Homo sapiens: one gene and its partners. The protein of the gene in region 2 interacts with the protein of the main gene of each other region in a pairwise test. Each region holds a gene or a part of one and is shown on either strand. Other genes may lie near its edges. The genes, in order: THAP3, DNALI1, E2F8 and IFI35.

The links.
Region 1: the proteins of DNALI1 (region 2) and THAP3 interact in binary tests that used the Homo sapiens proteins (3 or more experiments, as listed by UniProt).
Region 3: the proteins of DNALI1 (region 2) and E2F8 interact in binary tests that used the Homo sapiens proteins (3 or more experiments, as listed by UniProt).
Region 4: the proteins of DNALI1 (region 2) and IFI35 interact in binary tests that used the Homo sapiens proteins (3 or more experiments, as listed by UniProt).

What each region holds. Positions count from the first base shown.
Region 1 is NC_000001.11:6,627,863-6,634,357, reverse strand, and holds the end of THAP3 (THAP domain-containing protein 3), read right to left. Parts: intron 5,860-6,495; coding exon 5,667-5,859; intron 4,716-5,666; coding exon of another isoform or gene 4,634-4,715; intron 4,071-4,633; coding exon 4,005-4,070; intron 1,989-4,004; coding exon of another isoform or gene 1,968-1,988; coding exon 1,863-1,967; intron 1,563-1,862; coding exon 1,281-1,562; 3' UTR 796-1,280; downstream 1-795. UniProt on the Homo sapiens protein: Component of a THAP1/THAP3-HCFC1-OGT complex that is required for the regulation of the transcriptional activity of RRM1.
Region 2 is NC_000001.11:37,559,640-37,566,939, reverse strand, and holds the end of DNALI1 (axonemal dynein light intermediate polypeptide 1), read right to left. Parts: intron 5,384-7,300; coding exon 5,205-5,383; intron 4,860-5,204; coding exon 4,695-4,859; intron 1,915-4,694; coding exon 1,879-1,914; 3' UTR 86-1,878; downstream 1-85. Other genes in the region: GNL2 (nucleolar GTP-binding protein 2), read left to right, coding at 1-85. UniProt on the Homo sapiens protein: Involved in sperm flagellum assembly.
Region 3 is NC_000011.10:19,237,879-19,245,338, forward strand, and holds the start of E2F8 (transcription factor E2F8), read right to left. Parts: upstream 3,068-7,460; 5' UTR 2,670-3,067; intron 2,353-2,669; 5' UTR 2,244-2,352; coding exon 2,229-2,243; intron 255-2,228; coding exon 1-254. UniProt on the Homo sapiens protein: Atypical E2F transcription factor that participates in various processes such as angiogenesis and polyploidization of specialized cells.
Region 4 is NC_000017.11:43,001,804-43,009,971, reverse strand, and holds the start of IFI35 (interferon-induced 35 kDa protein), read right to left. Parts: upstream 3,189-8,168; 5' UTR 3,025-3,188; coding exon 3,004-3,024; intron 1-3,003. Other genes in the region: RPL27 (large ribosomal subunit protein eL27), read right to left, coding at 7,052-7,100, 7,189-7,299. UniProt on the Homo sapiens protein: Acts as a signaling pathway regulator involved in innate immune system response.

The DNA of each region.
Region 1 (6,495 bases), about 31 Mb from region 2:
CATTTTTTAAAAAGGTTTCTCTGACGGCCCCACGGCCCGAGCCGCGGTGAGCGTCGTGTTGCATGAGCCTGGGCCCCGGGCTTCCCGTGCGCCTCTGCCGCAGGTGCTTCTGGGCACCCATCCTCTGCGTTTCATTTGCAGTCGACTGTACAGAAGGCACTCACCACAATAAACCTTTCCTGAAAGCAGAGGCTGGCGCTCTTCCGTGTATTGTGTGTTCATCTTCAGGAGGGAGGGAACCCCTTCCCCAGAGGCCTCCTCCCCATCCTTCACTCCTCACTCAACCACAAGGCTTCACGTGAAGCTGGGGTTCCATTTTCTACATTAAACAACATTGCCTGAGAAATAAATAGACCCCAAGTTAGGAAATCAGGCTAGAACTTTTTTCTTTAATTCACTAAAGCTATAAATTAGACAAAATAGGAAGTCAGTTTTTTTTTTCAGACTGAGTCTCGCTCTGTCACCCAGTGACAATACTAGAGGGCAGTGGTGTGATCTCGGCTCACTGCAACCTCCACCTCCCGGGTTCAGCTGATCCTCCTGTCTCAGCCTCCCAGGTAGCTGGGACTACAGGTGTGTGCCACCACGCCTGGCTAATTTGTGTCTTTTTTAGTAGACATGGGATTTCACCATGTTGGCCAGGCTGGTCTTGAACTCCTGACCTCAAGTGATCTCCCCACCTCGGCCTCTCAAAGTGCTGGGATTACAGGCATGAGCCACTGCGCCCGGCCACGGAAGTCAGTCTTCTTAGAAGGAATCACGGCACTAGAGAAAATGATGATGGGAGCGACACCGTATAGAAAGACACTTTATTACACTGCCCACTCACACCAGGCCGGGACAGGAGTCACTCCTTAGAACCCCGAGCGGCTGTCCAGGCTGATGGAGGAGGGGACCACTCACCCGCCACAGAGCCAGCCCCCTCACATGGCTTCCTCCCTGAGGAGCATCTCCCACACTGGGGCTTCCAACGATCTTTGCTCTGCGTGTGCTGAAAGGACAGCGTCCAGAATCAGCCTCAGCCTGGACTTCTGTTACCATGGGAGGATAAGCTTGTCATGCTCACAGATGTGCACTCCTAGTGCCACGCCTCTAAACGTCCCCCAGACGGCATTGGGGCTCTCGCCGGGGAGCTTGGCTACTGTCTCGATCCCCGGCCAAGCAGGCCTCATGGCCAACTTTCTCAGTGTCCACAGCAGACAAAAATGTCCACAGCCAGAGCTCCAAAGCTCTGCCGGCCCTGGTGCCACTGCCACCTCTGCGTCCGGAGCCTGTGGGGCTCAGCTCTGCTGCTCTGGCCCAAGTCTGGCCTGGAGTCCCTGGTGCCCTTTGCAAGCACGGAGGCGGCTGGACATCCTTCGCATCACCAGCCTCTGGGCCTGCAAGCGCTTCCGGAGCTTTTCATTTTCCTTCAGAGTGAGGAAGAGTTTTTTCTTCAGGGAATCTAAGTCCAAAAGGGCATAGCTGTGATCAGATGGCTGCTTGTTGGGGGTCCTTCTCAGGCCTGCAGGGCCAGTCGGCCGGCCAACAGCCTCTGTTGCTTGCGGCCTCCGTGGCGAGACCTGAGGACAGGGGAGTGAGAGCCTAGAGCTGCATCACCAGCAGGAAGGCGGGCCATGGTGAGCAGGCCACCAGACACGCACACAGCACAACCCCAGGGCAGCTAGACACTCCGGGCTGCTCCCCCAAAATCCAGATGTGCCCACACCATGGTGGAGAATTTGACTGGGGAGCTCTGAAACCCAGGCTGCACACCCTGCCTCGGCCACACAGGTCTCATGGTGGGTGCTCACTGGTTTCCATTTTGTTTGGAGCAAGTCATCTTGTGTCCAACCACAGACCACCTTTGCACTCAGTCTTACCTGTTTTACGTGGCCTTCGGCATTTGGGGGCAACTGAAGCTCTTCAAGTGCAGTGTCCATGTTTCTCCCAGGACTGTCCTCTCCGGCCCCCGCCTCAGGGAGGACCTGGGAACGGCAGGGTGAAGTCTGCACTACAGCCCTGCACATGCAGGGCCCTCCTGCAGCTGCTACTTGTCCCTCTAGGGGAGTGGCAACAGCCAGGGACCAGCTCCAGGGTCTGTGCCCCTCCACAGCCAGCTTCTCCCTAGCACACACCCTGGAACTGAACTTTTTTTTTTTTTTGAGACAGTCTCGCTCTGTCACTTAGGCTGGAGTGCAGTGGTGCAATCTCGGCTCACTGCAACCTCCACCCCCAGGGTTCAGGTGATTCTCGTGCCTCAGCCTCCTGAGTAGCTAGAATTACAAGCATGTGCCACCACGCCTGGCTAAATTTTTTTTTTTTTTTTTTTGAGACGGAATCTAACTCTGTCACCCAGGCTGGAGTGCAGTGGCATGATCTCGGCTCACTGCAACCTCTGCCTCCCGGGTTCAACCAATTCTGCCTCAGCCTCCTGAGTAGCTGGGACTACAGGCACATGCCACTACACCTGGCTAATTTTTTTTTTTCTTGAGATGGAGTTTCACTCTTTCACCCAGGCTGGAGTGAAGTGGTGCGATCTCAGCTCACTGCAACCTCCGCCCCCTGGGTTCAAGTGATTCTCCTCCAGAGTAGCTGGGATTATAGGCATCCACCACCATGCCCAGCTAAATTTTTGTATTTTTAGTAGAGACGGGGTTTCGCCAGGCTGGTCTCGAACTCCTGACCTCAGGCAATCCACCTGCCGCAGCCTGCCAAAGTGCTAGGATTACAGGTGTGAGCCACCAGGCCCAGCCGAATTTTTGTATTTTTAGTAGAGATGGAGTTTCACCATGTTGGCCAGGCTGGTTTCGAACTCCTAACCTCAGGTGATCCGCCTGCCTCGGCCTCCCAAAGTGCTGGGAATACAGACGCAAGCCACTGCGCCCAGCCCGGCTAATTTTTATATTTTTAGTAGAGATGGGGTTTTTACTATGTTGGCCAGGCTGGTCTCAAACTCCTAGCCTCAAGACATCCACCCGCCTCAGCCTCCCAAACTGCTGGGATTATAAGCGTGAGCCACCTCGCCCGGCCCTGGAACTGAACTTTAAGAAATCAGGCACGGCCAGGTGCGGTGGCTCCCGCCTATAATTCCAGCACTTTGTGGGGCCAAGGCAGGAGAATCCCCTGAATCCAAGAGTTTGAGACCAGACTGGGCAAGATAGCAAGACCCCCATTTCTAAAAAAAAAAAAAAAAAAAATTTTTAATTAGCTGGGCATGGTAGCACATGCTTGTGGTCCCAGCCACTTGGGAGGCTCAGGTGGGAGGATGGCTTGATCCTGGGAGGTTGAGGCTGCTGCGAGCCATGACTGCACCACTGTACAGAGCCTGAGCAACAGAGTGAGACCCTGTCTCAAAAACAAAGAAAAAGGTTGGGTGCAGTGACTCACATCTATACTCCCAGCACTTTGGGAGACTGAGGTGGGAGGATGGCTTGAGCCCGGTAGTTTGAGACCAGCCTGAGTAAAATAGCAAGATGCTATCTCTACAAAAAAAAAAAAGTGGGGGCCCAGGCGCGGTGGCTCACACCTATAATCCCAGCACTTTGTGAGGCAGAGGTGGGTGGATCACCTGAGGTCAGGAGTTCGAGACCAGCCTGGCCAACGTGGTAAAACCCCGTCTCTATTTCAAAACACAAAAATTAGCCGGGCGTGGTAGCGGGCATCTGTAATCCCAGCTACTCGGGAGGCTGAGGCAAGAGAATCACTTGAACCTGGAAGAGGTTGCAGTGCGCCGAGATCATGCCACTGCACTCCAGACTGGGTGACAGAGCGAGACTCAGTCTCAAAAAAAAGAAAAGAAAAAGGGAATCAGGCACGATCCCTACTAGCAACTGAGATTCTTTGATATTGAAAAGAAGGAAGCTGAGAGGCTTGGGCCTTCCCTCCAGAAAAACCGGGAATCCAAACTGGCATATGAGGAAAGGCGACAGCCCTGCGGGCCGGCCTTGCTGGGAAAATCCCACCTCCCTGTCTCAACCCACAGCATAATTTAAACATTCAAGTACCTGGCCCGGTGCACTCACCTTTTCTTTCTGAGAAGAGCTGGCATTTCCTCTCTCACTGGCAGGGTCTGTGTTCTCCCTCACCTGCTACAAGAGACACACACAGAGTGGATGCAGACCCCAAGAACCCTCAGAGCTCGGGGCAGGCCTCGGGCATCATGCTTGTCCCCGCTGCTCGGCCCACTGCATGCCCCAGTCAACGAACAGCTGCTAAATGAAACTGACCTGAAGCTCAGCCCAACTCACACTGCCCGCTTGGTGCGCTTCTCTTTCTCCAAAGATGTCCTCAAATCATGGTCAGAGTGCCCTGAATAGGTCCCTGTAGAGCTAGGGACCCATCTACTTCCTATGTGTCACCCCAGGGCCTGGCACCTGGCCCCATGACCGCCAGCAAGCAGCAGAAGCGCAGCTCACCACTCGAGGTGCCACTGACCCAGAACCTGCAGCCCCTGGGCCACACTGGGGTGGGGCCCACAAAGCAGAGCTGGCAGAGGCCGTACCCAGCTTCTCCCCACCAACCAGGCACTGGAAGCACCGAGGGCTACAGTGACAAACGTCCCCACTCCCAGTGGCTCAAGTGTCATCTTTCCAGGACAAACGTTATCACAAATACGTGAAGGTGATTAAAGTGTTCATCTATGGACACATACCCCGAGCACCTGGGCTGTGCCAGGCAGCGTCCTGGGTGTGGGGCCTGAAGCAGGGAAGGCAGCCCCTGCCCTCATGGAGATTCTGTTCCAGGGGAGAAGACAAAACCAATGAGGGAAACAGGAAGGACAGCAGGGGCCACAGGGGCCAGGAAGACTGAGGGGCAGGAAGGGGTCGGAGGCAAGAGGGGGTTTGAGGGTCCAGAAGGGCTTCCTGAAGGAAGGGACTGCCAACCTGAAGAGGTTCAGGCAGACTGCATGAGGCTATCTGGGAAGGGTGCTGGGGAGGACAGATGGGGCAGGGGCTCCCAGGCGGCCGCTCTGGGCGTGTTTGCTACGTGGCCGCTTTGTTCTTCCCATCGGCTCCACTCTCCACTCACGGATCCCTTTCCTCTCCCCATAAATCCACCAATGCAGGGAGCTGCTGGCCTGTGGCTTGTCCCGCCACTGCCCTGCCTGCCCACTCCACGTGGGTGCCCCTGTGGCCTATCATGCGATCTCAAGGCTTCAGCATCCAACTCTTTGTGAGCCCTCTCCTGAGCCAGGCCCACACATCCCACCTCCACCAAGGCAAGCTTGGCTCACTGCAACCTCTGCCTCCCGGTTCAAGAGATTCTCCTGCTTCAGCCTCCCAAGTAGCTGGGATTACAGGTGCCCACCAACACACCCAGCTGATTTTTGTATTTTTAGTAGAAATGGGGTTTCAACATGTTGGCTGGGCTGGTATCGAATTCCTGACCTCAGGTGATCCACCCACCTCTGCCTCCCAAAGTGCTGGGATTACAGACGTGAGCCACCGCACCCAGCCATAGAATAATTCATTTTTAAAATGCCTTTAATTTATGACTTCTCTTAAAGCCGAGGTCATGGCCAGCAGGGCCACAGGGCTGTGGACCCCAGAGGCGTGACAGTGCTGTTGTCACTGGAGTTCTTGGCCTTGGCTTTTCCCACACATGCCGCCACCCCCACTGCCCCCAGCTGCTGGTAAACAACGCAGGCTGGATGTGACCAGACGGAAGGTGCAGTGCCCTCCTACCTGTGTGGGGTCCTGAAAGGCGAACACCGTGGGCACGGCATTGTGCTTTAGGTTCTTGCGGTTTCCAAAGGCGCTGAAGCACTCTGGCCGGAAGTGCTCGGAGCAGATGACCGTGTGCTGCTTGGGCTTGAAGTTGCCCCGGCCGATGTTCAGCACCCATTCCTTCAGCAGCTCCGGGCGGCTGAACGGAAACCTAAGGGCAGAGGCACGGGGTGTGAGGCCCAGCAAGGCTGGACCCAGCGCCTCAGAGTCATTCGGAATTTTCACATCACTACAGAGTACTTCCCTGGACAGCTGTGGACATTCAGTCCTCTCGGTTTATTAAATCACATCTAATTTCTGGAAGCTTCTGTCACAGCTGTTAAAGCACTCTTAATAGGAAACCCGAGACCACGAGCATGGCCAGAGAGCCCAAGTGAGCTGCTTCCGATGCTACATTTGCCAGGAGCCTACCAGGAGCCGGGCCCTGTTCTTCGTGCTAGGGATGGGGGGTAATGAGACAGTCCTGGCCCCCAAGAGCTGATATTCTGGAGCGGGGGCACAGTGATGAGCCACACAGATGTGGACGGTGTCTTCTGGGGATGACAGCTGCTCCAGAGAACAGACAGAGGGAAGCCCTGGGGTGGTGAGGAGAGGCAGCTGAAGGGGTGATGTTTGAGCACAGACCGCAGGAAGTGGCAGCACAAGCGACGCAGGCTTCAGAAGGGACAGCAGGAACGGCCACTCACGCAGGTCCAGCTGAGACAGCGAGAGGGAGTGGGGACTGCATGACGCAGGGCCCTGAGCAGCTGGGGAGTCCCTGGAGGCTCTAGACAGAGGTGAGATGGAA
Region 2 (7,300 bases):
GAAAAATAGGAACAGGAACAAAAAGAAGACCAATGACTCAGAGGGACAGAAACACAAACGCAAAAAATTCAGACAAAAGCAGTAATGTTTAAAAGGTTTTTATTAAATTATACAAAAACAGGCAGTTAGAAATTGTGTTTTCTTCCTGCCCCATTGACATTTCTAAGGCCCTAATGCATTTGTTCTGAGGTTTGACAGTTGAAGCCCTTCACCAGTGCTAGGGAAATAAAGCCTCCTCAACCTTAAGGATTTCAGTGATAAGAGTCTGAAAGTCTAGCACTTCAGGTAGACTTTGGATGAACTAAGAGGTTCCACAGTCACCCTGTCATATAACTGTCTGACAGAAATAGGGGATGAGGTCTATAAAATGGAAAGGGTGGTATTTCGTTTTTATTGGTAATGAATGATTTGGAATAGAAGCATACAGAACTGCAAATTTCAAGGACGTTAGTGTACATGGCCTGGCCTTTGAAATACAAGGAGAAAGTTGGGTGCAGAAGAAATAGGAGAAAACTACAATAATTTCTGCCTCATTGAGTCTGTGAAGTAGACCCACTTATGGCACATACGTTCCTGTCTTAGAGGCCTGGAACTAGCAGATCTCGTGGAAAGAGTTCTTTCCCATGGAAATGACAACACAGGCAGGTCATTTGAGTGGAGGCTTAAAATTCCTCAGGATACTGGATCAGGGTAAAAGCTGCTCCTTAGATTCCAGATGAGAATGTGTATGGTGTGTTCAGCATAGGGAACACAGCTTTTCTGGGGAAATGACAGTGCTTCCATTGTGAGCCTTGAAGCTCACTGAACCCAAGACGGATGGCAGGTGGAAGCTCTGCTAAGGAGAGGCCCTTCTTACGCCTCTTTCTGGGGAACCTGAGCATGTTAGTGCCTTTTAGGTAATGTTACTTGTGCAGCCTAACTGAAGGATGAAGTCCTCCAGCTTACCACCCTAGCCCACCCTGGCTTGCCCCGAACTAAAGATTTATGTCACTCATTCAATCTTCTGGGTCTACAAAACCAGGAGAATGGAAGAGAAATACTAAAATGCAGTTGTCTAGCAGCCGTACTCCAATTATTAGTCATTAGACCTGCATGTGAGATTTAGTTACCTCTTCAGTTGTTAATTAACATCACTACTTCGGGGAGTGCAGAGTCAGGGCTTGATTTTCTGCAGGATAAGGGGAACAGATCTGTGCTGGGGGAAGAGCTGAGTTGCAGACAACTCACAAAGGCCACTGTGACTAGTATTCCTTTCTGGCAAACATTTACTTTCTCCAAAGCCATGGGTTTGACTGCCATTGTTTCCTAATGTAGGCAGTCTGAAACCGAGGAGGAAGGGGTCCAGTTGACTGGCAAGTGGGGATAATACATTAGAAAACCAAAGCTCCAAAGTGAGTTAGAAATGCATTAGAGTAGGGAAAAGAAGACATTAAGTAAGGAAGGCCAGAGGCCCAAGAAGCCCAAGTTAAGGTAGAAGATGAATTGTGAACTAAAAGTTTGAGGGGCAGAGAAGCAGATTCATTTGGCCAGAAATAAGTATTGGTATAGAGTGATGATGAGAAAGCAGTGGCTTTCTTAGAATTTGAGTTGGCAGTTCCCAAGGCTGGCTAGTAAGCCACACACGGAGACTAACAGGGCCACACCATCTTCCATTGCCCAGCCAGGAGCCTGGCTGGCAGACCTTAGGTGTCTGATGACATTGGAGTAATAGTGTGACTTCTAACAAATACCTAGGTGGTGTTTAGGGGAGGTTATGGCTTGTTCACTCAGGAAACTAGCTTTTTATTACAAAGGGCTTATGATGATTTTATTGGCTGCCAGAGGAACACAGTAAATAACTCCCAAGTGTCTTGTTGGAAATTAATCATGTGGAAATTATCACTTCTTTGGTGCAATAATGCCTTCCAGTTGGGCCTGAAAAACAAAAACAAGCTCCATTAATACTTGAAACTTGCAGCCTGATACAAATAGCTGAGAGGTGATCAAATCTCTGGGAAGAAGAATCCACATGCTGTCACTCCAAGGGTTCTTTTTCCCCTTGATCCCCAAATCCATATTTTCTAGATTAGCTAGTTTCTAGCTTGGCATACAGTCTTTAGTATATGAGGAGAAGCCAGAGCTGTCCTGGTTTCAACACAATAATGGCTCCGGGTATGATATAAAGCATTGAAAAGGATATTGAATGCATTGTTGTAAGGGCTTTTCATGGCTCAGGTTTCAGGCCAGAATATGTCTGCTAAGTTAAACATTTGGCTCTCTGGCCGGGCGCAGTGGCTCATTCCTGTAATCCCAGCACTTTGGGAGGCTGAGGCGGGCGGATCGTGAGGTCAGGAGATCCAGACCATCCTGGATAACACGGTGAAACCCCGTCTCTACTAAAAATACAAAAATTAGTTGGGCGTGGTGGCAGGCGTCTGTAGTCCCAGCTACTCCAGAGGCTGAGGCAGGAGAATAGCATGAACCTGGGAGGCGGGGCTTGCAGTGAGCCAAGATCGTGCCACTGCACTCCAGCCTGGGTGACAGAGGGAGACTCCGTCTCAAAAAAAAAAAAATATTGGCTCTCTGGTTTAGGATCCTGGGAGTTCTGCTGGGACCAGAGGTTTGGGAAACAGTGAATTTTCAGCCACTGAGACAACTTGGCACACAATTAGAGAAATGCTGCCAGTGAATACAGAGCTGTCCCTCTTTGTTGGGGGGTGGGGGTGGGGAATGGAGTTTTGCTCTTGTCACCCAGGCTGGAGTGTGATGGTGTGATATCGGTTCACTGCAACCTCTACCTCCCGGGTTCAAGTGATTCTCCTGCCTCAGCCTCCTGAGTAGCTTGGATTACAGATGCACATCACCACGCCCAGCTACTTTTTGTATTTTTAGTAGAAATGGGTTTCACCACGTTGGCCAGGCTGGTCTCAAACTCCTGACCTCATGTGATCCACCTGCCTCGGCCTCCCAAAGTGCTGGGATTACAGGTGTGAGCTACCACACCCAGCCGAGAGCTGTCCCTCTTTATGTAAAGCTTAAGACACTTGGGAGTTATTTACTATGTTCCTCTGGTAGCCAATAAAATAATACTGGACAGATCTTTAGGTAGGTCTATCCTGGGGACAGCAAAGCTGCTTTATTTGCAATGCAGTTTTGAGCCAATAAAAATAGCTCACTTCCTGTATTACAAGCCTGTAATTCCAGCACTTTGGGAGGCCAAGGTGGGCAGATCATGTGAGGTCAGGAGTTCATGACCAGCCTGGCCAACATGGTGAAACCCCATCTCTATTCAAAATACAGAAATTTGCCGGGCGTGCTGGCACATGCCTGTAATCCCAGCTACTCAGGAGGCTGAGGCAAGAGAATCACTTCAACCCGGGAGGTAGAGGTTGCAATGAGTTGAGATGGTGCCATTGCACTCCAGCCTGGGCAACAAGAGCAAAACTCCGTCTCAAAAGAAAAAAAATTTAAAAATGCCAACTTCTAAAGAATCTTTCACCCTGGAGATTACAAGATTGCTTTTAAATGTTAGAAACATGCTAAGGTATTTGGTTTGCTCTTGTTGCTAATCCAGGAAGAACTGAGGAACTCAGGCTTATGAAAAAGGAATATGGCAGTTAAGGAAAGCAGCCTCAGAGGCTGCTAAGGAAACAGATTCATCTCTGGCTGTGAAAGTTTCTTGCTTTTCTTTGTGCAACAAGAAAAGTTCCAGTAGTGGTTAACAGAAAGCCTTCTTTATCGCAAATGGCCAGTCCTGCTGGTGTGTAGACCAAACAAGCCTGCAATGTCAAGATTGTAAGGTTTCTATCTGAGCCTAGGGAGGAGAGGGAGATCCATCCAGGGTCCTTTGGCCAGGGCCATGGGAGAAGGCCACTAAATGTCAGTAGGCCATCTTTCCAGAACAGTGATGCTCAAACTTCTGCAAACATTAGAATCACCTGAGACCTTGTTAAAGCACATTGCTGGACCCCAACCCCGAATTTTCTGATTTGGTAGATCTGGGGTGGGCCCAATAATTTGTCTTGCTTTGCCAGGTGAGGACGATGTTGATCTAGGGCCTACCTTTTGAGACCTTTGGACCAAACAGCTGGGAGTTGCAGTGCCTGTAGCATGGCCTCCTGCCCAGCTTTGTCCACCAGCCCCCTCCCTCCTATCACCTCAGCTGGATAAAAGACCACTGCTGGCATCGGACTTCGAGGAAGAGCACCTGTGCCTGGGTTCCCCGACCACATTTCTGGGGAAGGTTTCTGATTTGAAATGGTTCTTCCTCTCAAAGGGCCCTGCTGCCCTTTGACTTCTTCCCTGGTTATGCCCTGAAACAGGGCCTCAGAGGAGACAGCCATGGGATGGCACTACCACGCAAGCCACCTGGAGCCCAGCCCCCTCCAGAAAGGCTCCAACATACCAGCTTCCAGGGGAATGGAGTTCCACTTTTTGCCATATCCACCTCTTCCTTGAGGATGGGCAACTTTTTTCCAGGGAGAAGAATCCTCCACTGGAGAGCCAGGCTGAGGCGCCTCAGAGATTTGGAGTTGAGAGTAGAGACCCCCTCTGGAGCCCTCCCCTTCTCCCACCACCAAAGTCAGCTTCCTTTATCCTTTGGCAGTGCATGTGGACAAACATTTAAAAGCCATGGAAAAGGAACCGAATGCCTGGCCTGTGGGGCTGGGTCGCAGGGCAGGGGGCACCTCCACCCCACCCTGCGCGTTGATTACCTTCAGCTGCTGATTTGTTCGCTTCAGGAACTGAATCTCCTCATTGTGCTTCTTCTCCTCCACCTGCCGCCTCTCGCTCTCCCGCTTCTCAGTGGCTTCACATTTTGCCTTCTGCTCGTTCACTTGCCTCTCCAGGTCTCTCTTTTCCGTCTCCAATTCTGCGATCTGAGGAGAGAATGCCCAGTCATCCTGGGATGTCGCCAGGTGAATGGAATGGTGTGAGCCTGGGTGGAAGGGACATGGGACATGACATTGCCAGGGTATATACTGCCACCCAGTGGGAGGTCAGTGCCTGGCATGGAGCGTCTACAGCGGAAACAACTCTGCCAAGACCACCAGGCTGGCCATCATACTCAACCAGGGGTCCCTCACTGAGGTGATGCAAGTCCAGGTGTCGTGACTGTCAGCAGAGCACCTTAGGAGGTCAGAATGTAGTGCTGGAATGATAAGCATGTGGCCCTGAGGTTTACAGAAGAGATGGGACCAAGGGTCACGGTAAACCCCACTCACTTTCCTCTCCATGTCTGACTTCCCCTGCTCAGCCTGCAGTGCCTTCCTCATGCCAAACGCCACGCTGCTCTCGTACAGGGTCTGGTAGGCAGCGATGGTCATGCGGATCTCGTCCCGGACTCGCAGCAGCAGCAGCCCCCTCTCCGCACAGTTGATGGTGACCTCCCGGATCAACTCATCTTCCAATGCACACACACCATGAGATCAGACAGGGCGTGGGGAGGGGGCTTGCAGTATGTCTACTGCAAACACCCTTCCTCTTGGGAAGGACATTAGGGTGTTCTCGCTTGGAGACAAAGTGCAAGGCCTCAGAGAAGGGCCTCAGGGAGGGTGCCTTCAGTGGCCCAAAGAGCCTTGCCATGCAGTCACTCCTCTGAACTTGGCACTTGTGAGTAGCACAGTCAGCAAGACTGGGTTGGCCAGAGCAAAGGAGACAAGAGGCTCTGGTTTGTTTACAGCACTGGGTCCCCTCCCTTCCTGCCTTAGGTAAAAACTGGTTACTACTCGAAAAAACCTGACTTTTTCTGTTTAAAGATGGCAGCTGTTTTAAAGCAGCTGGGACATCCTGTGTGCCCCCTTGGCTGCACTGGTTTGAGGGAAATGGCAGGGTCTAGAGCTTGCCCATCTATCTCCCCATAAATGCTGACCTGGAGGGCAAACCATAATAACACACGGATAGGGAAGCCTGCTAGACCCTGCAGCTGCCTGAGGGTTTGGAGGTGGTTTGCAGATCGGCGTCCATAAGAGCCAATGAGACTGGGCTGGGAGACAGCCATTTGACACCAGCACTCAAGGAGGTGCATCTTAAATCTCTCGTGTCTGTGGGTTAACAACAAATCACAATATTTTTCTGGACCAAGGGCCAAATATTGATGGATGGATGGATGGATGTAAATACTGAACATTAATCTTTCTGACTAAAAAATTAGCACATGCTTATTATAGAAAATCTTTGAAAAAACAGATGGAAGTTATCGTTTTACTCCAAACATCTGCTAAGGGGTGAGGAACTCAAGTTGCCAAGAATATAGTGGTTGGCAGCTGGAGGACTTGTAGAAGAGGCGGGGCTGGTGTAGGGAAAAGAAGGAGAGATCAGACTGTTACTGTGTCTACGTTGAAAAGAAAGACACAAGAAACTCCATTTTGACCTGTACCCTGAACAATTGCTTTGCCCTAAGATGCCGTTAATCTGTAACTTTGCCCCAACCTTGAGCTCACAGAAACATGTGATGTATGGAATCAAGGTTTAAGGGATCTACGGCTGTGCAGGATGTGCCTTGTTAACAAAATGTTTACAGGCAGCATGCTTGGTAAAAGTCATCGCCATTCTCCATTCTCGATAAACCAGGGGCACAATGCACTGCAGAAAGCCGCAGGGATCTCTGCCCTGGAAAGCCAGGTATTGTCCAAGGTTTCTCCCCACGTGATAGCCTGAAATATGGCCTGGTGGGATGGGAAAGACCTGACCGTCCCTCAGCCTGACACCCGTGAAGGGTCTGTGCTGAGGAGGATTAGTAAAAGAGGAAGGCCCCTTGCCGTTGAGATAAGAGAAAGGCCTCTGTCTTCTGCCTGCCCCTGGGAACTGAATGTCTCAGTATAAAACCTGATTGTACGTTTGTTCTGAGATAGGAGAAAAAACGCCCTGTGGCGGGAGGCGAGACATGTTGGCAGCAATGCTGCTCTGTTACTCTTTACTCCACTGAGATGTCTGGGTAGAGAGAAGCATAAATCCGGCCTACGTGCACATCCAGGCATAGTACCTTCCCTTGAACTTATTCGTGACACAGATTCCTTTGCTCACGTGTTTTCTTGCTGATCTTCTCCCCACTATCACCCTGCTCTCCTGCCACATTCCTCTTGCTGAGATAGTGAAAATAGTAATCAATAAATACTGAGGAAACTCAGAGACCAGTGCCGGTGCGGGTCCTCCGTATGCTGAGTGCCGGTCCCCTGGGCCCACCTTTCTTTCTCTATACTTTGTCTGTGTCTTATTTCTTTTCTTAGTCTCTCCTCCTGCCTGAGGAGAAATACCCACAGGTGTGGAGGGGCTGGCCCCCTTCAGCTGGGAAGGGGAAGGGGGCAGTTAGCTGTTGCTG
Region 3 (7,460 bases), on a different chromosome or scaffold from region 2:
AATCCACTTCTGTTGTCAAACAAACCCCTTTTCTGATCTCTGTTGCGGATCTCAGGGCTCACAGCACTGATGAGCATTTTCAGGTTGGCTGTCGGTGTCCACGGCTCTCCCTGAGAGCCTTCCTTGGGCTTGGTAGGTGTGGTTAAAGGGCCAAAGTCAGGCTGGATCTCTGCCAACACGATATTTGCTGTGGTGGATTCTTTCAGAGGTGTTTTCATTAGTCCCCTTTTATGTGGCTCACAAAAGAGATTTTCCTGGTTTAAAAAATGTAAATAATTAAATCCATGGTAAAACAGGATTTATCAGACAGCTTGGATTCTAGAAATTGCATAACGAATAGAATCATGCCAAGGAAAAAATGTCTAATGAGATTGTAGAGTTGAGGAAATTAATAACTGTATTCTAATGGTCATGTGATGTGTATTGTCAATTCTAATAATTACATTTCCCATTTTTAATTTTGCAATAAGCCATAAATGTTTTCACCTTATGTTTCAACCACTGAAAAAACAACTTTAGTTAGGACTTATAATTTTAATTGTATTTTGAAATAGTTTTAGATTTAGAGAAGAGAAGCAAAGACAGTATAGAGTTCCCAAATGCCCTTCACTCAGCTTCCCCTAATTGGACTGACAATGTTAAATGATCAAACTTCTAGAAATGACTTTTGTTTACTCATGGCACTGTAATAAGTAAAGGCCTACAGGGCAGAAATTCTTATCCACCTAGCATAATGGCTGCATGCAGTGGGTGCTAAATAAAATACCACTGAAGAGTCAGAGAGACAAGGAGACAAGAGTGAGGGATAGCATATGGTCAGATTTATCAGGGAAATCTAGAGTGTCCAACAGCAGGATTTCTGACCAGAAAAGTCTGCTCTTTGAACATCCACTCCCTCATTTTACAGATAGAGAAAATGGGGCCCAGAGAAGTAAAATGATTAGGTTGGTGCAAAAGTAATTGTGGCTTTTGCTACTGAAAGTAATGGCAAAAACAGCAATTATGTTTGCATCAACCTAACAGCTACCTAAGACCACAAAGCTAGATCCTGGCAGAAGCAGGATAGCCACTGAGACAAAAGGGTAAATTAACAGCAGTTCATAAATAAGGCTAATGGAGACTATGTTCCTTCCAGTTTTGGACACCAGGGACTTCACACACTACTCCCATCTTTATCTATTTTAAAGAAAATGCTTGGAACAGCAATAAGTAAAATAATAGGCAGACCAAATAACTTTAAGAACATGGACAAATGGGACATGTTGTGACATCTTGGGTTTATCAAGTGCATTTCCGTTTGTATGTTCATGGAATCCTGCATTCTTAGCTCGCAGAAGAGAAGATGCAGGCTGAGAGAGGTCACGTAGGAGTGGAACACAGATATTTTCACTCCAAGTATGGTGCTCTTCTTACATGGAAGTCAGTATGGTGGACCCAACAGGAGCTCCTTGCCAGTGTGTGCATCTGAGATGTACTGATCTGACAATAGGCTTTTTCTTTGCCTCAGATTATCAGAAGCAATAGTAATTCTCTTATTTGACTAACATCTAAAACTATTAGGAAATATGCATGTAAGTTCACTTTTTTAAACCTATTAGTAGTTGGACACCCCCCACAGACAATTCTTTTGTAATTTTACAAAATGTTTGCCCCCTAAACAGAGCATTTTGCAGACCCCATAAATAAGCTGCCAATTTGGTAAAAAATTATCTTAAAAAGAAATTCAGTCTCCAAACATGTCAAATGCCCTTTCTGAATTCCAAGTTGTTCAAGAATCCTCAGAAATGTTGTAATGAAACTAACGAATTTTTGAAGAGGGGTAGGTTTGCCCCTTTACACTCTTTCTAGTTTTTAATGATTTGGTAGCTGTCTCAGACATAAAGAGAGAAAAGGTATTTTTAAGAATAATAAAATTTGTTAGTTTCATTACAACATTTCTGAGGATTCTTGAACAACTGGAATTCAGAAAGGGCATTTGACATGATTGGAGACTGAATTTCTTTTTAAGATAATTTTCATTTTTTAAACTATATTAATTAAATTAGTATATATTTTAAACTATATATTTTTGAAACTATAAGATAAGGTTCATTTTTTCCAGGTCTTTACAGAGGCTAACCAAGGTTGTGGCATTAAGAAAACACATTGGATAGGGAAAAATTATGGAGTTAAATCAGGATGATACTGAATTTAAAATTGCAATGATGAATACTGAAGTTATAAAGTACCTTTTCGTTCTCCATTCTGTAAATTCCTCATACATTTAGAGTTTAAAAATGAAAAATCTGGAGTTCCTCCCCAAATCCCGATGGTTCAAGTAGTCCAATCAATTGTACTAAAAGTTTTAATATCCTTAAAGAAAAAAGGAAATAGAAAAAGTTAGAGAAAAACAAGAACCAAAAGATCTGTTGAAAATTCCTTCACGGACAAGAGGCTACGGAAACAAAGCCTAACGAAAAATGACAAACTAGATTTACATTTTATTCTCGACCAGAGATCGCCCCACTGAGCGGAGAACGCCAACAAATGCCAGTAAATTCCTTCAGCAAACGGATCGGCGGTCCTAAGACTTCAAGCAACCCACGGAATTTCTAGTGACAGCCCTCTCCCATCTGTAGAAAAGGCGAGCCATTCTCCGGACCCCAGCGAATACTTTAGGAAGCACCCACCTGTTCGCAGATCAGGGCTCCGGACTAAGCGCACGAGCCCAGGTCCCAGCTGAGCGCACGCGACCCCAAGTAACTGGGTACAAGTCTGCATCTAGATGCCTGGATTTCTCCCCTTACACACACGTGCACAGGCTCAGCAGTAAAGTCGTGGGAGGTCGCTTGACAGGAAAGTTCCAAATTCAGTCCCAAAGCTCCAAGTATGCAGTTGGGCATTTAAAGAGTCTTATAATTAAGACTTTTTTTTTAAATTTAAAAAAGGGCTTCCTTAAAGATACAAAGCACTATTTACTCCCTGTTCGGGTGGCCAGTTCACACCACGGCGTTAGACTCCACCTTGGAAGGCTGTATTTGCCCAATAAGGCAAGCAGGTACTGTCCCCCGGCCGCCACTCGCTCAGTGCACTTCCCCCAACTTTCGGCCAAAGGCCCCTCCCCCAGGCCCTGTCCGCCCGCCGCAGTCCCGACAGTTCCCGGACAGCATCATCGTGGTTTCCAGGACAACAATTCCCGACCAATCAGAGGGCCGGAAGCGGGCCTGCGATTGGCCGACGGCGCCAGGGGCGGGGCCGGACCTTCCGCCTTCGATTTAAAAATTTGGCGCGGAAAGTCGGACCGTGGCCGGCGCCTCCCCTTAGCTGCGCGGGGCCTGAGCGCGGGCAAACCCGCGCCCGGAACCACGGCAACCCCGCCCCTCCCCCTCGTTCGCCCCCGCCCCTCTGCGCGGGAGCTCAGCTCCTCCCTCACGGCCCCCGGCGAAGCGGGAGGCGGGAAACGGCCGCCGCCGCCGCCGCCGCCACCCTCCCGAGCCCTCTCCCGGTGCCGTGTCGCCCGGGCGCCGCGCCCCTCTGCGTCCCGCTGACCTGTCAGTCCACCTCACGGCGGGAGCCGGCGGGGGCTGAGCCGGGACTCGTCAGCACCGCTGCCCCTCTCAGGCCCGGGAGCCCGCGTACCTGGCAGTCAGTCTTTCCGCAGCGCCGAGGTGGGTGCCGGAGAGAGACGCCGGGACCGGGACTGGCGGGCCGGCTGGCGGGCAGAGGGAGCGTGACCGTCCAGGAGCAGCCAAGCCCCCGATTTGAAATTAACCCGCTCCCGGCGCGAGCCGATACCGCGGGCGGGGAGGGCCGCTCCCCTCCCCCACGCCCGCTCGCCCCGGCCCCGGCCCCCGAGCGCCAATCCGAGCCTCCCGACCGTAGCCGCCGGCGAATCGGTGCAGGCACCGCCCTCCACTCCCGCCTCTACGGCAGAGTTGGGGGAAAAGTTCAGCAACTTTTTTTTCCTTTTTTTTTTTTTTTGCATACACCCCCTCCCCTTGCTCAAAGTTGGGGAATAAAATTTGGCCCGTCCGGGGCTCGCGGGCTGGGCCGCAGGCGCCCTGCGATTCCCCGCTTGGGGCTATCTCACCCCTGCCCAGCCCCAGGCCGGCTCACCTGCCCTCGGACTCCAGCCGGACCTCTCCCCCTTGCACCCCTGGCATGCATGATTGTGCTGCCCACCGTCTGCCCCGTGCCTCGCAGAAACTGGCGCGAGGAGGGAGAAGCTTGGCTACTGGTGCCTAAGCTCCGTGGGCTCTGGGCCTTGGCCCAGCGGTGAGAACTCAGGTGTAGGAGGAAGAGGAGGAAGGCGGAAAACCCTCCAACCCTGTCCTCGCCGTCTTTCCTCAGGGTCTCCCACCCACTCCTCCCTTTCTCTTCCCTGTTGTCTTTCCCTCTTTTTCCGGTCTCCGAGCCTCAGGCAGCTTTAGCCTGGTTCCCTGTAGAGCCCTAGCAGGGTCGGGGAGACACTTCGATCCTTCGTCCTCACTTTGCAGAACGGGACACCGAGGCCCGGGGCGGCGGCGCTGCCTCGGCTGCACCTGGATCATTTGCGCCCGCGTTGGCTCCCTTTGCTCTCCTCTGCCTTAGACTTTTCTGCGGACTGGTGCTGAGTGTTGCCCAACCGCGCCGAGATCTGGGCGCCGGTCTCTCGATCTGGACTCGGTTTGGCTCGTCCTCCTCTGTAATCGCGTGTCTTTAGGCTCCAGCAGGGCCCGGGGCCACACTTCCCCACTCCCACCGCTAACTTGGGGATCAGTGACTCTCCCATTGCTGACTAGCAGGGCGAGGCATTTTTATTTTCTGCGAAACGCGATGAGGGCGGGGATGCTATGATATTGAGGCTGGGGTCGCAGCGCAGCAGCTGCCGGCCATAGGGCCAGGGGTCTCCGTGGCGAGCGAAGGCTCATCTCCCCGCGGAACGCGACCGCAGGCTTGCGGTGTGGCCGCCCTGGAATGTTGGCGCCGTCGTGTCCCTGTCCCCCTTTCGTCGCCAGCTGAGGTGCAGGTCTTGCTCAAGAAGGCGCTTCGACCTGAAAGCAGGCCTTTCAGGTACTGTGCAGAGGGGCCACTGCCTGTGGCTCGCAGATTTGAAATAAAGCAGAGGTCACTATATAGGGTTCCACCGTTGCTAGCACTGAGCGGCTGGTTCTTACTAAGCCCAGGTACCCCTTTTTTGGAGCAAGACTGGGTTCTAAATGTATCAACAAAAAGTGGGGAGTTGGTGCTTCTGCTTTAGCCACTAGCTGTTGGCCAGATTGTCATCTCCCCCAACCCCCTGAATGGTCAGCGCTCCCAAGAGTGCATAGATTCAGCTATGCCTAATGTACCCGAAGTTATTACAGCCCCGGAGTCCTGTGGGCCATAAATCCCTTTTAAAGTTCTTTAGAAGCAGTCTGCCTCATGCACCTGTGTTCAGAGATAGTGACTAATTCGTTCAAATCTGTGATCTACAGGGCCATTCATGCTGCAGATGTCTGAGTGACAGTTACCTGTAAGGCACATCATGCAGGGAGCAGCCACCTCTGGTGACACTTGACAGATGGCCTCTCATTTCATACTCAGCACAGGTGTGAAAGCATGGGTTATGACTCTGAGAGGGAAGCAGCATTTTAAAGTGACAAACCCAAGGTCTAACTGTAAGGGACAGGACTGGGATTTGAAGCCAAGGGTGTTTAACGTCTCAGGGCTTTCCACTGAAAGCTGTGTTCACCACTGTGCGGCGTGCTCATCCTTACTTGCTTCATAGGATAGTTGTGTCCCATTTTATAGAGAAGAAAACTGAGGCACAAAAGGGTTAAACTGATGGCCAAGTTAGCTACAGAGCCAGAATTAGAATCCAGGTCTACCTGCTCCAAGTTCATACATCCCATTCCACTGCCTCTGAAAGTTCCTGTGAGAGCAATGTTAGTGCCAACTCAGGCTAGCCCTTAACCATTTCAACCCCTCCCTAAACACACAAAAAAACAGGAAGGTGAGAGTGTAATTCTTGCTTACTGATAGTTGTCATGTCTTACTGAAGGAAGTGAAATTATAGTCAAACTCATTGAATATGTTGAAAAGTGGTTTTATTAAGAGTGAAGTGATACAGTTTTGAAGTCTTAACAACACTTTCATGTAATGAAAGGTAATAAAGAAAGAAAGGTTCTACTCATCACTGTGTAGAGTATCAATTTGAAATGCAGCATGAGTGTAAAGGAGGGAAAAGACTACTGAAAACTTTTATGTTTACTGCATAACCAAGAAGGAAGGATCAGGGCATAAGCTTGAAACTTTTTTTTTTTTTTAATTTTCCCATCAAATATGTTTTCCACTTATTAGTTACATAATCCAAGGGAATATTTGTGTATTTGTTTCTGGTCTTTTGTTCATCATGTTGTGTAATCTGTGTCTCACTGAAGTTAGACCAGTTTTTCTACTCTGTGCTGTCGCCCTTCTGGATTGCACAACTTGGAGGGCTGATACGTTGTGTAACACGTTCAGCATTAAATAAAGTATTATGAAAAAAGATATCAAAGGTAAGGAGGAAAGATAGGCATCACCGGGGCGCCTACATTCAAAGGTAACATTTGGGATTTCTGAAGCGTGTCCCTTTTCATCATCACCAAAAAGACAGGCAAGACCTTCCCCTGCTGAGCAGGGAAGGATGAAGGGCTAAGGAAGGAGTTCTAGCTAATGGGTTTCTTGACCTTTTCTGTCTGTCTTGCTGCCCCACCTCCTAGGTGCTTATATCACCAACTCTGCTTCCTGACCTAGTGGGGCAATTTGGGTTTGTGCTTTATCTGCAGTACGTGTTGGCATAGATACCACGAAACAGCTCTCTGGAGCTTAAAACTGCACAAATCCCTATGTGCTGGGTTGGATTGTGGCTGCTCACAGCTAGATCTCAGCTATTCCTGGTCCTTGTACTAAGCCTACAAATGAATCATGCTGGGTCTAGTCTGGGCAGGGTTAAAGAGGATGGATACAAGCAAGGGACCCAGGAAGTGGGCATGCCTGGAGCTGGCTTGTGCTGACTGTGGAGCTAGACTAGGTCAGAGTAAGTCCCAGGCAGCAGCAGGGCTGTGTGTGAAATCCCTTCAGACTCTCCTGTGACCTCCTGTGGGAAATTCCTGATAGGCCCTGATGTATCCTGATGAGCCCCATATAGACATTTGCAGCCCTGGACTCAGCTGCAGCAGCAACAGTTGCTGCCATTTATTGAGCAATTACTGCTTCTAATTTCTTTTTTTGTTGTTTTTTTTTGAGACAGAGTCTTGTTCTGTCACCCAGGCTGGAGTGCAGTGGTGTGATCTCGGCTCACTGCAACCTCTGCCTCCTGGGTTCAAGCAATTCTCCTGCCTCAGTCTCTCAAGTAACTGGGACTACAGGTGCGCGCCACCACGCCCAGCTAATTTTTGTATTTTTAGTAGAGATGGGGTTTCACCATATTGGCCAGGCTGGTCGCGAACTCCTGACCTCATGATCTGGCCACCTCAGCC
Region 4 (8,168 bases), on a different chromosome or scaffold from region 2:
GAGACACCGCGCCCAGCCCTCTATTTTTTTTTCTTTTCTGAGACGGAGTCTCCCTCTGTTGCCTAGGCTGGAGTGCAGTGGCGCAATATCGGCTCGCTGCAAACTCCACCTCCCGGATTCAACAGATTCTCCTGCCTCAGCCTCCCAAGTAGCTGGGATTACAGGCACCTGCCACCACTCCTGGCTAATTTTTTTTATTTTTTATTTATTTATTTATTTTGAGACAGAGTCTCGCTCTGTCGCCAGGCTGGAATGCAGTGGCAGGATCTCGGCTCACTGCGACCTCTGACTCCCGGGTTCAAGCGATTCTCCTGCCTCAGCCTCCCGAGTAGCTGGGACTACAGGCACGCACCACCATGCCCAGCTAATTTTTGTATTTTTAGTAGAGATGGGGTTTCACCATGTTGGCCAGGATGGTCTCAATCTCTTGACCTCGTGATCCACCCACCTCGGCCTCCCAAAGTGCTGGGATTACAGGAGTGAGCCACCGTGCCCGGCTCTAATTTTTTATTTTTAGTAGAGATGGGGTTTCACCATGTTGGCCAGGCTGGTCTCAAACTTCCCACCTGAAGTGATCTGCCCAACTCAGCCTCACAAAGTGCTGGGATTACAGGCAGGAGCCACGGACCCAGGCCCCCTAATCTTCCCATTTTTAATAGAAATAAAAAATCTGGGCAGGTTGTTGTGGCACATGCCTGTAATCCCAGCACTTTGGGAGGCCAAGGGAGGCAGATCGCTTGAGCCCAGGAGTCTGAGACCAGCCTGGGCAACAGGACAAAACTCTACCTCTACAAAATATTTAAAAATTAGCCAGGCATGGTGGCACATGCCTGTAGTCCCAGCTACTCGGGAGGCTGAGATGGAAGGATCTATTGATCCCTAGAGGTGGAGGTGGCTGCAGTGAGCCATGATCCAGCCACTGCACTGCAGCCTGGAAAAAACAGTGAGATCTTGTCTCCAAAAAACAAAAAATCTGGATTTTTATTTGAAAAAGATGGCCCAATTTAACGTATATAAAGCCGGGTGCTGTGGCTCAAGCCTGTAATCTCAGCATTTTGGGAGGCTAAGGGAGGCAGATCATGTGAGGTCAGGAGTTCGAGACCAGCCTGGCCAACATGCTGAAACCCTGTCTCTACAAAAAATTAGCCATGCTGGGCACGGTGGCTCACGCCTGTAATCCCAGCACTTTGGGAGGCTGAGGCAGGCGGATCACGAGGTCAGGAGTTCGAGACCATCCTGCCTAACACAGTGCAACCCCATCTCTACCAAAAATACAAAAAACTAGCTGGGCGTGGTGGCGGGTGCCTGTAGTCCCAGCTACTTGGGAGGCTGAAGCAAGAGAATGGCATGAACCCATGGGGCGGAGCTTGCTGTGAGCCGAGATCCTGCCACTGCACTCCAGCCTGGGTGACAGAGCGAGACTCCATCTCAAAAAAAAAAAAAAAAAAAAAAAATGAGCCAGGCGTGGTGGCATGTGTGCCTATAATCCCAGCTACTTGGGATGCTGAGGCAAGAGAATCACTTGAATCTGGAAGGCAGAGGTTGCAGTGAGCCAAGATCATGCTATTGCACTTCAGCCTGGGCAACAAGAGTGAAACTCCATCTCAAAAAAAAAAAAAAAAAAAAAAGGAAAGAAAAGTCCGGGCATGGTGGCTTACACCTGTAATCCCAGCACTTTGGGAGCTTGAGGGGGGCAGATCACGAGGTCAGAAGATCAAGACCATCCCGGCTAACACGGTGAAACTCCATTTCTACTAAAAATACAAAAAATTAGCCAGGCATGGTGGAACGTGCCTGTACTCCCAGTTACTTGGGAGGCTGAGGCAGGAGAATCGCTTGAACCCGGGAGGCAGAGGTTGCAGTGAGCCGAGATCATGCCACTGTACTCCAGCCTAGGAGACAGAGTGAGACTCCGTCTCAAAAAAAAAAAAAAAAAAGGGATTGTCCTTGGGGAACTGGGGTTCTGAAAAGGTTGGCAATAATAATATTAAGAAGAAACACATATTGAATGCTCTGTAGGTGCTAAGCAGTGGGATAAGTTTTTACCGTGTTAATCTATGGATTACCTAGTGTGATTCTTAAAGTATAATTCTTATAGTATATATATATATATATATATATATAAATTTTGTGTGTGTGTGTGTGTGAGAGACAGTCTCCCTCTGTTGCCCAGAGTGGAGCATAGTGGTACAATCTCGGCTCACTGCAACCTCTGCCTCCCAGGTTCAAGCAATTCTCCCGCCTCAGTCTCCCTAGTAGCTGGGATTACAGGTGTGTGCCACCATGCCTGGCTAATTTTTGTGTTTTTAGTAGAGATGGGGTTTTGCTATGTTGGCCAGGCTGGTCTCGAACTCCTAACCTCAAGTGATCCACACGCCTCAGCCTCCCAAAGTGCTGGCTGGGATTACAGGTGTGAGCCAACACACCCAGCCTAATTCCTTTAGTTTAATTTTTTTTTTTTTTTTTTTAGACAGAGTCTCGCTGTGTCACCCAGGCTGGAGTGCAGTGATGCAATCTCGGCTCACTGCAACCTCCGCCTCCCAGGTTCAAGTGATTCTCCTGTCTCAGCCTCCCAAGTAGCTGGGATTACAGGCGCACACCACCACACACAGCTAATTTTTTGTATTTTAGTAGAGACGGATTTTCACTGTATTGCCAAGGCCTCCCAAAGTGCTAGGATGACAGGCGTGAGACACCACGCCCGGCCTAGAACAATTGTTATTTGGGTCACAGAACCCGCTGAGTATCTGATGGAAACTACAGATTCTCTCTCCAGAGAAGTGTACACACACAGGATTTAATGAGCTCCTCCTGTCTGAGGCAATAGGTTAGGGAACCAACTCTTGCAGAGGCAACCCCAGCCCTGTGTTTCTCCCCAGCCCTTCAGCAGGTCTGAGATGGGCAGGGTGAGGCTTGGCTGCCAGGCCCTGAGATATCTGCAGGTTCCTAGCCAAGAGGATTACTCCTGTTTCCCCACTTCCCAACTCCCTCCTCCTCACTTACGGCATCCAGTGGGGCTGACATGGGTCTCGGGTCTGTTTGGCAAGAGCTGAGGCTTCAGAGCTGGGCACAGTGGCAGAATTCACAGCAACTGAACTCTTGTTTGTACCCCCCAAAGGGCTGTGGTCTCTCTCAGCCCCAGCAAGACCCGAAATACACCTCAGGAGGCTCTGCTCGCAGGCTGTTTGCTTCCACTTTCATTTCCGTGAAATCCCTGCCTTCTGGCGCTCACATGCCGCCCCCTGCCGAGGCTTCCCCACCCCTGGGAGGAGCCTTCTTGGTCAGCAAAGTCGACTTCACTCAGCCAGGCTGCCTCAAGGAAAGCCACCTCACCCCAACTGCAAACTGGCCCCCATCAACCATTCCCAGCAATCTCCGACAAGCCCATTGGTAGACCCTGCTTTGTCAATGGATTATTTCCCTAGAGCCTAGAATAATGCTGGGCACATTGAACATTGATAAAATAATTGCTGAATGAGCTGGGTGCGGCGGCTCACACCTGTAATCCCAGCATTCTGGGAGGCCCAGGCGGGCAGATCACCTGAGGTCAGGAGTTAGAGACCAGCCTGGCCAACATGGTGAAACCCCACCTTTACTAAAAAAATACAAAAATTAGCCGGGCGTGGAGGTGCATTCCTGTAATCCCAGCTACTTGGGAGGCCGAGGCAGGAGAATAGCTGGAACCCGGAGGCAGAGGTTGCATTGAGCTGAGATGGTGCCATTGCACTCCAGCCTGGGTGACAAGAGTGAAACTCCATCTCAAAAAATAAATAAAACAATAATTGCTGAATGAATGAGAAACACAGTCAGGACAGATAACGCCCATAGTTCAAGTTCACAAAACTGCCGGGTGCGGTGGCTCACACCTGTAATCCCAGCACTTTGGGAGGCCCAGGTGGGCAGATCACCTGAGATCCCAAGTTAGACACCAGCCTGGCCAACGTGGTGAAACCCCGTCTTTACTAAAAAAATACAAAAATTATCCGGGTGTGGTGGTGTATTCCTGTAATCCCAGCTACTTGGGAGGCCGAGGCAGGAGAATAGCTGGAACCTGGGAGGCAGAGGTTGCATTGAGCCAAGATCGCGCTGTTGCACTCCAGCCTGAGTGACAAGAGCGAAACTCCATCTCAAAAAATAATAATTGCTGAATGAATGAGAAACACAATCAGGACAGATAAAGTCCACAGTTCAAGTTCACAAAACTGCCAGGCGCAGTGGCTCATGCCTTGTAATCCCAGCACTTTGGGAGGTCCAGGCGGGTGGATCACGAGACCATCCTGGCCACCATGGTGAAACCCTGTCCCTACTAAAATACAAAAAATTAGCCGGGCCGGATCACACCACTGCACTCCAGCCTGGGCAACAGAGTGAGATTCTGACTAAAAAAAAAAAAAAAGTGCCAATCCCAGCAGCTGGGCCCACTGGTAACATGTGCCTATAGTTCCAGCAGGTTGAGGCAGGAGGACTGCTTGAGCCCAGGAGTTCGAGGCCAGCCTGGGCAACACAGTGAATCTTGTCTCTTAAAAAAAAAAAAAAAAAAAAAAAAAAGGCTGGGTGCAGTGGCTCACGCCTGTAATCCCAGCACTTTGGGAGGCTGAGGCGGTGAATCACTTGAGGTCAGGAGTTTGAGACCAGCCTGACCAACATGGGGAAACCCTGTCTCTACTAAAAATACAAAAATTAGCCGGGCGTGGTGGCATGCGCCTGTAGTCCCAGCTACTCGGGAGGCTGAGACGGGGGAATCGCTTGAACCCGGGAGGCGGAGCTTGCAGTGAGCCGAGATCGTGCCACTGCACTCCAGCTGGGTGACAGAGCGAGACTCTGGCTCAAAAAAAAAAAAAAGAAAAAAGTTCACAAAACTGTTAACAGTGGCCAGCAAGGAGAGCTATCGTCTGCCCAACACGCTTGTGCCTTACATGAATTAACTCTTCAAAACAATGCCATGAAGTTGGTTCTATTTTCTTCACTTTACAGATGAGAAAATTGAGGCACAGAGCATTAGAAACTTGCCCAAGGTCACAGGGCTAGGAATCAAAGCATGGATCCAAACCTGGTAGGAACAGTATTTACACTTGGGCCTTGAGGTAGAGTGGAAAAAAATTTGCTGTATTTTTCCTCAAAAGTTTTAAATTCAGCCCCATTTCTGTGACCCTGAGTAGGCAAGCTACTTAATAGAAGTCTGTCTCAATAGAGATGCCTTAATACTTAAGTGTGTGAAGATTCAATTAAAAAGTTTCCTGGCTGGGTGCAGTGGCTCACACCTGTAATCCCAGCACTTTGGGACGCCAAGGTGGGTGGATCATGAGATCAGAAGTTCAAGACCATCCTGGCCAACATAGTGAAACCCCATCTCTTCTAAAAATACAAAAATTAGCTGGGTGTGGTAGCACACTCCTGTAGTCCTAGCTACTTGGGAGGCTGAGGCAGGAGAATCGCTTGAACCCCGGGGCGGGGCAGAAGTTGCAGTGAGCCGATAGTGCCACCTCGCTCCGGACTGGGTGGGTGAAAGAGCAAAACTCCATCTTAAAAAAAAGTGGCTGGGCGCGGTGGCTCACGCCTGTATTCCAGCACTTTGGGAGGCTGAGGTAGAACGATCACAAGGTCAGGAGATCCAGACCATCCTGGCTAACACGGTGAAACCCCGTCTCTACTAGAAATACAAAAATATTAGCCGGGCATGGTGGCAGGCGCCTGTAGTCCCAGCTACTCGGGAGGCTGAGGCAGGAGAATGGCGTGAACCCGGGAGGCGGAGCTTGCAGTGAGCCGAGATCGTGCCACTGCACTCCAGCCTGGGCAACAGAGCAAGCCTCTGTCTCAAAAAAAAAAAAAAAAAGTTTCCTAGTAACCTAGCCCAAAGTTTTTTCCAGTTACTCACCAATCCTACTTTTGGCCCCTTCCCGCCACCCCGCCCCCTCTGGTTCCCAAGTGCAAGTGTGGTACCTAGCAGACTTGGCAAACTGGCCTGTTTGAATCTTAGTTCCCTCTAGCGACAGAACCATTCAGATGGAGCACCTATTTCATTCATGAAACATGACTAGTTACAGTCCATTGAGAGATAAAATGCCAGATCCTAAGAACCAAATGTCTCTCCTGCACTACACAGTAGTGGCACAACCCAATGCCCCAAAGCTCCTTTGATCACTTTCTTTCAAGTCTCTGCCAGCCAGGCCATTTGAGGAGCACTCCCTTGTCCTATTAAACAGCTGCTCTAGGCTCAGGGATTCACCAAAGGCATCTGTCGTTACCACCAGGAGCAGGTCTCCAGGGTGGTCCCCATCTCACCTACACCAGTACCAGTGTCACCTGAAAACCTGCTAGAAACTCAGACCTACTGGATCAGTCTGAGGGCAGGATTTCAGCAATCCGTGGTTTAACAAACCATCCAGGTGACCTCTATCTGTGCTAAGGTTTGAGAATTTCAGGTTAGTGGTTCTCAATCAAAAATACCTGATCCCCACCACTCAGGGGCCTTTGGTTGTCACAAGGAGGGGCAGAGTGTGTGTGGCAGAGGTTCTCCTGGCATGTAATGGGTAGAAGCCAGGGAGGCTACACAATTCTTCACAGGGATTATCAGGCTAAGGACAGAGGCAGCATAAATCTCATTAAGGCAGATTTAACATTTTCCCAGCCCCTCATCCATCACCCAGCGTCTTTTTTTTTTTTTTTTTTTGAGATGGAGTCTTGCTGTTGTCAGACTGCAGTGCAGTGGTGCTATCTCAGCCCTCCCTGCAACTTCCGCCTCCCGGGTTCAAGCAATTCTCCTGCCTCAACCTCCCGAGTAGCTGGGACTACAGGCGTGCACCACCAGGCCCAGATAATTCTTAGTATTTTTTAGGAGAGACAAGGTTTCACCATGTTGGCCATCTCTTGACCTGGTGATCCGCTCGCCTTGGCCTCCCAAAGTACTGGGATTACAGGCGTGAGCCACCGTGCCCAGCCCACCCAGTGTTTCCTATTCAATAATGTTCTCCTTTTCACAGTCTGGTAATACATACAGCATGCAGACACAGGCTTTTTTTCTTTATAATTTTTAATGATCAAAACAAAGCATCTAAAACCGCAGTTTCTGGAAGAACCACTTGTTCTTGCCTGTCTTGTATCTAGAAGGGAAAAAAAGAGGACACCAATGAGGAAAGGAATGGAAATAGTGAAACCATACTCCACCATTCACTACCAAAGCCTACTTACCTCTCTTCAAACTTGACCTTGGCCTCCCGTCGGGCCTTGCGTTTAAGAGCAGGATCTCTGAAGACATCCTTATTGACGACAGTTTTGTCCAAGGGGATATCCACAGAGTACCTGGGGACAAAGGTGGAGAGGCAGGATTAGCCCACATACTGCCGGGGCCCCTATACAGCCCAAATCCTTGTGGGACACTAGGGAATCAGGGTCTGACTCCTTAGAAGCAACCATCAAAAGCCATGTCCCGATGACATTATCTGAAAATTCACACTTTTTTTTTTTTGAGACGGAGTCTGAATCTTTCGTCCAGGCTGGACTGCAGTGGTGTGATCTCAGCTCATTGCAAGTTCCGCCTCCCGGGTTCACGCCATTCTCCTGCCTCAGCCTCCCGAGTAGCTGGGACTACAGGTGCCCGCCATCAGGCCTGGCTAATTTTTTGTATTTTTTTAGTAGAGACGGGGTTTCACAGTGTTAGCCAGGACGGTCTTGATCTCCTGACCTCGTGATCCGCCCGCCTTGGCCTCCCAAAATGCTGGGATTATAGGCGTGAGTCACCGCATCCGGCCTGAAAATTCACTTTTAACATTTATTGGATTCAAGCCAATAAAATGTAAAATTCAATGTTTCATTCTCAATTTCCCACAACTACTTTATTTTTCTAGCTAAGAATCATCAAATGAGGCCCTCCCCCACTTTTTGAGACACAGTCTCGCTGTTGCCCAGGCTGGAGTGCAGTGGCGCAATCTCGGCTCACTGCAACCTCCGCCTCCTAGGTTCACGCCCTTCTCCTGCCTCAGCCTTGCGAGTAGCTGGGACTACTACAGGCGCCTGCCACCATGCCTGGCTAATTTTTTGTACTTTCAGTAGAGACGGGGTTTCACTGTGTTAGCCAGGATGGTCTCGATCTCCTGATCTCGTGATCCGCTTGCCTCGGCCTCCCAAAGTGCTGGGATTACAAGCCTGAGCCACTGTGCCCGGCCAAATTA